Regions from separate parts of the Homo sapiens genome. Here region 1 is linked to region 2. The links come from fine-mapping of genetic effects on gene expression. Tissue or cell type: whole blood. Region 2 holds a variant in brackets; the other region holds the start of a gene. All regions are shown on one strand. Distances are between the middles of the regions.

What was found. PIP is the estimated chance that this variant, and not a neighbour inherited with it, causes the effect.
Region 1: it holds the start of TNFAIP6, and the variant in region 2 is fine-mapped to the expression of TNFAIP6 in whole blood (TOPMed, PIP 0.98).

What each region holds. Positions count from the first base shown.
Region 1 is chr2:151,354,931-151,359,098 of GRCh38, forward strand. TNFAIP6 (TNF alpha induced protein 6) reads left to right here and starts at 2,662. Exons shown (of 6, transcript NM_007115.4): 1 at 2,662-2,830. The coding sequence starts at 2,737. The region is part of intron 2 of LOC101929319 (a long non-coding RNA gene); the gene reads right to left.
Region 2 is chr2:151,305,300-151,309,652 of GRCh38, forward strand. It overlaps LOC107985827 (a long non-coding RNA gene), which reads right to left and starts at 1,600. Exons shown (of 3, transcript XR_001739220.1): 1 at 1,584-1,600; 2 at 409-494. The variant A/C (reference allele first, on the strand shown) is at 1,857.

The sequences.
Region 1 (4,168 bases), 50 kb after region 2:
AAACAGGAACTCCTCTACAAAAAGCAGTCTTGCTGGGTTTTCAGCTAGTGGTGATATGTGCGAAAGGAGCCACTGCACATCTTGACCCAGAGATAGTGGAAGGGGAGGGCATTCCTCTGAGAAGGCAAAATACTTGACTGGTTAAGTCTTCCAGAACCTTGAAAGGAACTTTTTTTTTCTTTTTTTAAGATGGAGTCTGGCTCTGGCACCCAGGCTGGAGTGCCGTGGCGCGATCTTGGCTCACTGTAACTTCCGCCTCCCGGGTTCAAGCGATTCTCCTGCCTCAGCCTCCTGAGTAGCTGGGATTACAGAAGCAAGCCACCACACCCAGTTAATTTTTGTATTTTTAGTAGAGACGGGGTTTCACCATATTGGTCTGGCTGGTCTCAAACTCCTGACCTCGTGATCCTCCTGCCTCGACCTCCCAAAGTGTTGGAATTACAGGCATGAGCCACTGCATCCGGCCTGAAAGGAACTTTTATCAGTGTATCTTCTCTCAGCTCCTCATGAGGCTTATCCTGGGTGGTGTGTGCTGGAGGCTGGGCAGAGGGTGCTTCTTAGACAACTTCCAAGGTAAGTTCATAGGCAACATTTCCTTTGCTACTCTCTCTTTTCTTCTCTCTCGTCCTCAGGATTACCCTCTGCATCTTTTCCATATGAAAACCCCATTTCCTCTTTCCTTTATTGAATGCCCCTCAAAATCAGAACTTACATCATTAGGCATTATTCTCTATTTCCTTGATGATATGGAGGATGAGATTTTCAGACACTATGCAGAGGTAAGGGGAAATATTTATATTCTGCATGAGAGTTGGGAGAGGGGAGAAAGAAATCCTCCACCCCAGATCGGGTTAATTCATCAAAGCAACTCATTAAATTTTCGTGTTAAAAGAAGTTGAACATTCACACTTCGCTCTACTTGGAGCTTCATTAAAATGCAAATGAACACAGAAGGGTATCTGTTCTTAGTTATCTGGCCTAACTAAAGATTAATTGCAAACCCTTTCCTGAGAGTAATTTTTGATAAATGAGAACTAGGGGGAAATTAGGTGCTTGAGAGAGATGCAGAAAGGGCACAGCTGGAGGATGTGACAAGAAAAGAATTGGAAAGACTATGGGAAGGTTTTGCTGTAGCACTGCACAACTAAAGTTATATTTACTTCCTAAACCACAAACTTAAAATACGCATATAATTATACTTTCCAAAGAAATATCATGGTTTATTCCTTCCAACTACCTATGAATCTTGCTCTCAGTAACCATGCCTGTCTTCTCCATAGTCACACCCACCTGGTCTAAACTATACCTTTCTCTTTTGCAACAAACTTAAATTCACTAACCCTATCTGTGAACTTGGATACAATTCCCTCATCTTTCATGTGCCACCAGTCCAAAATAAAGATTTTCAATGCTAGTAACTTTATGTATACCTCAGTGAGCATCCAATAAATTCTGTACTCTCAGCCTACATCCCCATAACTGCTCTTTTGAGAAGAGATGAGACCAGAACACACCTGAGATGTTCAAAGCAAAGATGTCTAAGGGATTCAAAGCTAACTTCAAACCAGAGCATGTCTAGCAAGTTGGCTTTTTCAAAGAACTCCAACATCATTGGAGGGACTAAGAAAGCATGGGAGAAATGAATGCTATAATAGGAGTGAATGGGAAGCAATTTGAGACCAAAAGTAGAGAATCTAAGTAGCAAAAAATGACCAATTTTGTAAAAAAATCAAAAGTTGCCAATAAATGGCTATCAATGAACAATAGGAAATGCCATTAGCATCAGCGGTAGTGGGAGTATTATCAGATATGTTACCCAAGGATTCTACACAAAGGAAGAGGAAAGTTTGGGATATTTGAAGACATGATGACTTTACTGTAATAATTATTATCTATTACCTTGATCGTCTTCTTCAAAGTTAGAGTGGTCTAGGGAAGCTAGGGACAAGTTTTTATTAACTTTGTTAGTCTACCCACCTTTCTCCCAACACTTCAAGAATTTGTGGCCTGGGAAAACTGTGTTATAATAGGACATCCCAAAGCTGCTGGAACATCCTGACGCTCTGAAATTGAAATACTTTTCTGGGAGCTGATACATTTATTTAGCTGCTGACCATAACACACCAAAGACTGCAACAGACCCCACCCTGGAAGAAAAGCAGGCAGAGAATAAGGAAGTCATATATCACTGGAGAAAAATTAGGATTCTCCAAGCTGTGCATACTTTTTGTTTTAAATTTTTTACACAGGCTTGACAATGTTTAGAAAAGCCAGTCCAACATTACCAATAAAAGATTAGTGTTTAACCCCATATCCCATAATTGACACTGCAAATAAGACATTTAGGATTTATCTTGAAATTCCTACTGAAGTTCGATTTTCTTTTAATCACTGCTAAATCTGCATCAAGTTACACAAACTTTCTAACAGAAAAGTGTTTGTGACTAACAATAAATGAACTCCGTTCTTAGTAAGTTAATTTTAAAACATAGATGATCATTCTATCTCCTTAGTTTTGGTTGCCAATGCAAATGAGTCAGAGGATTTGCTTCAGACACTGAGATAATTGTGTAACTCTACAGCGGAAAATGCCATTGGAGAGTACTTGCTGACCTCACAGTTGAAAAAAACTATTTAAAAGATGTGGAAACCAGATGTTTCAGTCACATTTCAGCCACTGCTCTGAGAATTTGTGAGCAGCCCCTAACAGGCTGTTACTTCACTACAACTGACGATATGATCATCTTAATTTACTTATTTCTCTTGCTATGGGAAGACACTCAAGGATGGGGATTCAAGGATGGAATTTTTCATAACTCCATATGGCTTGGTAAGAACCTTCACTCATGAGCCTCTTGTTGAGAATGTCAATTCTTTAAATCATGGAGAAGGAAATTTAAAGCAGTAACTTTTTCTATTCTGTACAAGGCTGATGTTCTCAAAGAAAATGCTTAGGAAAGATAGCCTTTGGAATACATACGCTTTTTTTTTTTTAAGCGTTCTTGTCCTCTAAAATTTAAAAATAGCATTTTATAAAGTGAATTGTTCAGTAGAAAATAGCAGTTAATATTTATATTCAGTATGAAAATATATTTTTAAACTTTTCAAAGCAGATGTAGTAGTACAGTGAGGAGTATTTCTTTAACCAACTAGAAACTCCAATATAGTCTTCTGTTTTTATGTCAATGCATTTGCAATCAGATTTCAGAATCCTAACAGGTAAATTGGAGTCTACGAAAATTTTATAATAATTGCTTCATGGACTCTGAGCTATAGTCTATATCTTAGTTTTTTCAAACATTTTGACTATTTTGACCAAGCCAGCTTGCAGTACAGAAAAAAGTGAAAAATGTTTCTCCTTCTGAATGCATTCTTACCACTTTGATTCTTTCTGTTTCTACTATCCATATAAATACTTTTCTGACCCTTTTGTTAGACAAGGAAAGTTTCTTTTGTTATTTTGTTTTGTTAAATGTAAGGAATGAGACAGGCCAAACAGTGAAGATAAACAATAGATCAAAAAAGGAAAATGCAGAAAATCCAAAACACCCCTTAGATTACAGTATGCTAAACAATGCTTTAATTCTCATGATACAAATTGATATTGCTCTATGTTCATTATTGTGTTTAATAGTAAAAAAAAATTGAATTTCTTGGGGAAAAATGCATAGATTCTTGCATAGAATAAAGAAATAAAGAGAAGGCGAAATTAACCTAGATTTTGATTTTATGCTTTCTAAACAGCACAGTTGTAGAATATTTTCCCTTTCAGCATGTTTCTCTCTGGTAATAACTGCAACCATGCGGATTTCATTAAAAAGCCTAATTTGTAATGCACAGCCTTGCCGCCTATTTTTTTCAGCTTGAGCCAGTGAACTAATTTCACTGTGATCCATTTGGCCAAGACGGGATCTGAAATTTAGTAGAGGAATGAGCCCATCTCTTTATTTTAGTTGAATACAGTCAAATATAGGAAATACACTCATATTTGTCAGGATTTTTTTTAAATGTCATAAAGCTAGTAAGAATTAAATCCAGGCAGATAAACTTTGAAATATTATCAAACCCTCTAATAATCAAGTAATTTAGAGTTGTCTTTTAAAGTGTTGTCATATGTTACAAAAATATAAACCTGGACAATAGAAGTTTTGCCCCAGAGGTAGAGAGA
Region 2 (4,353 bases):
TTAGAAAAGAGGAAGATGAAAAGAGAGGAGAGGAAGGGAGAAGAAGAAAGAAGAAGAAAAAAGAAGAAGAGGAAGAAGAGGAGGAAGAAGAAGAAAAAGGAGGAGGAGGAGGGGAAGGGGGAGGGGAAGGGGAAGGGGAAGGAGAAGGGGAAGCAGAAGATTCCTGATCTTGTCACTCTTCTTTGATGTGCATTTGCTCCCAACATGCATCTACATGCCCAGCTGGAGAGCCAAGATGTAAATGCAACCAGGCCATAATCCACCTTTCCAACCTAATTTCCCAGAACTCCCTTATACCAGTAATTCAGTCTTTTCAGTCCAATTAGCCTTACAAATTCCTATCTCCTGTCTCCATTCACAGAATCTCAGAGTTGGAGAAATCAGAGGTCATCTTGTCCAACCACTCACCAGATGCCTAAGTCCTTAAGTTGGGCTGACATCTTACTTAGTTGAACTTCCATTCATTTTCTCAGTTGGGCTCATAGAATAATGTTCTATGTTATAAAAGGTATAAAAAGAAATACTGTCAAAGAAAAGAGAAAAAGAAGAAGCAGCACACTCTGAACTCAAAGTTAAGTTCCCACTTATTAATTATATTACTTATATTTTAAAAGAATATTTAAATCCAATTGCAAAACATTAAGTCTACAGTGATCCCATTTTTGTCACCCCCACAAAATGTGTGTGTGTGTGTGTGTGTGTGTGTGTGTGTGTATGCGTATATATACATAGAAAAAAGTCCCTGTGTAAATCTTTAAAGTTTCTTTGAAGGCAAAGTTATGGGTACCCTTTATTTCTACACTTGTTTATTTGTATTCATAATTTTTATTCAATTAAATTTTATTTTCTTTAACAAATGAAGAAAATTTGTATATAGTATGTTTGTACATATAAGTAAATATAACTGAGGTGGCAATTAGTTATCAAGTGACACAAAAATTTGCAACAGAACAAAAAATAAAAATTATTTTGTAAATGTACATTGGAAAATTGGGTTTAGCATATTTAATCAAACATGTGGAAGGCTGGACATGGTGGCTTATGCTTGTAATCCCAGCACTTTGAGAGGCCAAGACAGGCAGATTGCTTGAATCCAGGAGTTTGAGACTAGCCAAGCTGGGTATTTTTCTGTCTCTACAAAAAAAATACAAAAATTAGCCAGACACAGTGGTGCACACTTGTGGTCCCAGCTACTTGGGAGGCCAAGGATGGAGGATCGCTTGAGCTCGGGAGGTTGCAGTGAGCTGAATCATGCCACTGCACTCTAGCCTGGGTGATAGAGTGAGACCCTGTCTCAAAAAAAAAAAAAAAAAAAAACGGAACAAAGGAATTGATTATGATCGAATGTTTCCCAAGAAAGAGAAATTAGCCTTAATGGGATCATAGCCAAACCACAAAACATAAATTTGATATTGAGGTTACAGCATACAAAGGGCTGGACTATCCTCTGGGACAATTATCATTTTTCCCTTTGCTTAAATCTTCACTCAGCTCTTGCAATGTATTATGTCATGCATTCTGCTAATCCTTGGGTGGGAATTCAAAGATGACTAAGACGGGGCCCGAGCCCTTAGGACACTCACACATTTCCTATTTGGCTAGAAAAGCAGCCAAAGCTCCAGTAGGCAGCCTGATGGTCTCCTAGAAGGCATTTTTGAAAAAGACTTCAGTTAACCATGTTCCATTGTCTCTCCACATCTCACATTCACTGACACACCTAAAAGAAAGGCCCAAGAGGTCCTTTTGTGTTGGCATCTTCAACTTCTGATATTGTTGGCACCTCAGTAGATGCTATGCGTCTCTTGCTGGTTGGTTTTGGTATCTTGCGAGGGCATATTAAATATTGTTAGCCAAAG[A/C]ACTCCCCTCCTCAAGAAAATGCTTAGTATCCCCAAGGTCAGCCTCTGTCCAAAAACAAGTCTTCTTTACCTTTCCACTTGACCCAATAGCCATCGGCAAGGATGTGCAAAAGGATTCCACACTCTTTTCTCTTTTGACTAATACTTAGTGCTAAATTCCTGGTCACAAAGGTGAATAAAATCCTTAGTACTAAATTCCTGGTAACAAAAGTGAATAAAGGATTTGCATTCATCAAACTATCTTTGAAAGCTCTTACCCCCTCTTGCTACTCATCCAACTCAAGAGCAAACCTCCAAAATGTCCCTGAACCAGTACACTTCTTTCCCTTCTCCATTGTTGCCATCACCATCCAAGCCACCATCCCATCAACTCTCCCTGGACAACTGCAGTAGCCTCCTGAGATGACTCCCTGCTCCCCCTCTTAATCCACTATAAGTTCTCCTCTGATGAGACACCAGAGTGATCTTTTTAAAACATAAATTAAATCATGTTGTCACCTGCTGAAAAACCTCCTACTGCATATAAATTCAACTCCATATGCCCAACCTGGCTTACGCAGCCCCACAGTACCTGCCACTGCCTACCTTTCCCCTCACAGTAAGTTCCCCCTTTCATTAAGCTCTTTCATCACCTTGCTCTCCCTTTTGTTTTTGGAGAATTGGTCAAGTTCATTCTTGCCACAGGGCTTTTGCTCCAGCCTTCCCATCTGTCTGGCATGGCTGGCTCCTTCAGGTCATTCAGATCTAAGCTTCAATGTCACCTCCTCAGAGAGGCCTTTCCTGACCCTCTTTTCTATCATGTCAGCCTATGCTGAGTCTTTCAAAGCACTCATCATTATCTGATAATTTCCTTGTTTACTTATTGCTCCATTTTTTCTCTGTCACTGCTGCTAGAATGTAAGCTCCATGAAAGCAGTAACTTTGTGTGTCTTGCTCATTGGCTGTACTGGATTGATGCCTGGCATAAAGTAGACATGAAACAAATAATTGCCAAATAAATGTGTTAAATGAGTAAAAGAAGATGGTTGTCACTCCATAGTTAAGTGACTGAATCTTGTATTCACTACATTCATTCATTCACTAACTCATTGAGTTTTTATTATATGCTTGGTACTATTTTTAAAAATAAACAGGCCAGGTGCTGTGGCTTACATCTATAATCCCAGCACTTTGGGAGGCCAAGGTGGGTGGATCACCTGAGGTCAGGAGTTCGAGACCAGCCTGGGCAACATGGTGAAACCTTGTCTCTACTAAAAATACAAAAATTAGCTGGGTGTGGTGGCACACACCTGTAGTTCCAGCTACTCGGGAGGCTGAGGCAGGAGAATTGCTTGAACCCAGGAGGTGCAGGTTGAAGTGAGCCGAGATCACGCCACTGCACTCCAGCCTAGGTGACAAAGTGAGACTCTGTCTCAAAAACAAAAACAAACAAACAAAATAAATGCAGCTAATTGCTATCCTCATGAAACTGAGGTTTCCTATACTCAAAGGAGAGAAATATATCAAATAAAACTTTCTAACGTGATATGCTAAGTGATATGCTAGAGATGTGCAAAAGATGGTTGGAGGTGTTCTCACAGGGAATGTGAGGCTTTACCTGTATTTTTAAGAATGAATTCACCAATGCATTTTAGAGAGAAGGGACAAGAGAGACTTGAGAACATCATGGCAGATGGGAGGCAGGACAGTTTGCAGCTCCCACTTGGACAGACAGAGCAGTGTGTGGACACTCTCATCATGAACTTTTGCTCCAGAACTACTGCAGGAATAAATCAGGAAAGCCAAGAAAACCCACAGACCCTCTGAAGGAAGAGGATTGCTCCTGCAGGACCTGGGAGACACCCCAAACACAGTGATTGCCCAAGCTGTGGAACTGGGAAAGGGGGATTGTCTGCCCCAGAACACACACCCTTGTAAGGCCTCTGAGCCCAAGCTAAGCCACCATATCCCCAGTGACCTGCACATATACATCCAGATGGCCTGAAGCAACTGAAGTTCCACAGAAGTGAAAATAGCTTAACTGATGACATTCCACCATTGTGATTTGTTTCTGCCCCACGCTTTGTAATTTCTTAAGAAATTACAAAGAAATTTCTTTGTAATTCTCCCCACCTTTGAGAATGTACTTTGTGAGATCCAACCCCTGCTCCCAAAACATTGCTCTTAACTCCACCACCTATCCCAAAACCTATAAGAACTAATGATAATCCCACCACCCTTGCTGACTCTGTTTTCGGACTCAGCCCACCTGCACCCAGGTGAAATAAACAGCCTTGTTGCTCACACAAAGCCTGTTTGGTGGTCTCTTCACACAGACACATGAGACATTTGGTGCCGAAGACCCGGGTCAGCGGGACTCCTTTGGGAGACCAGTCCCCTGTCCTCACCCTTACTCTGTGAAGAGATCCACCTACGACCTCAGGTCCTCAGACCAACCAGCCCAAGGAACAGCTCACTGATTTTAAATCGGGTAAGCAGCCTCTTTTTACTCTCTTCT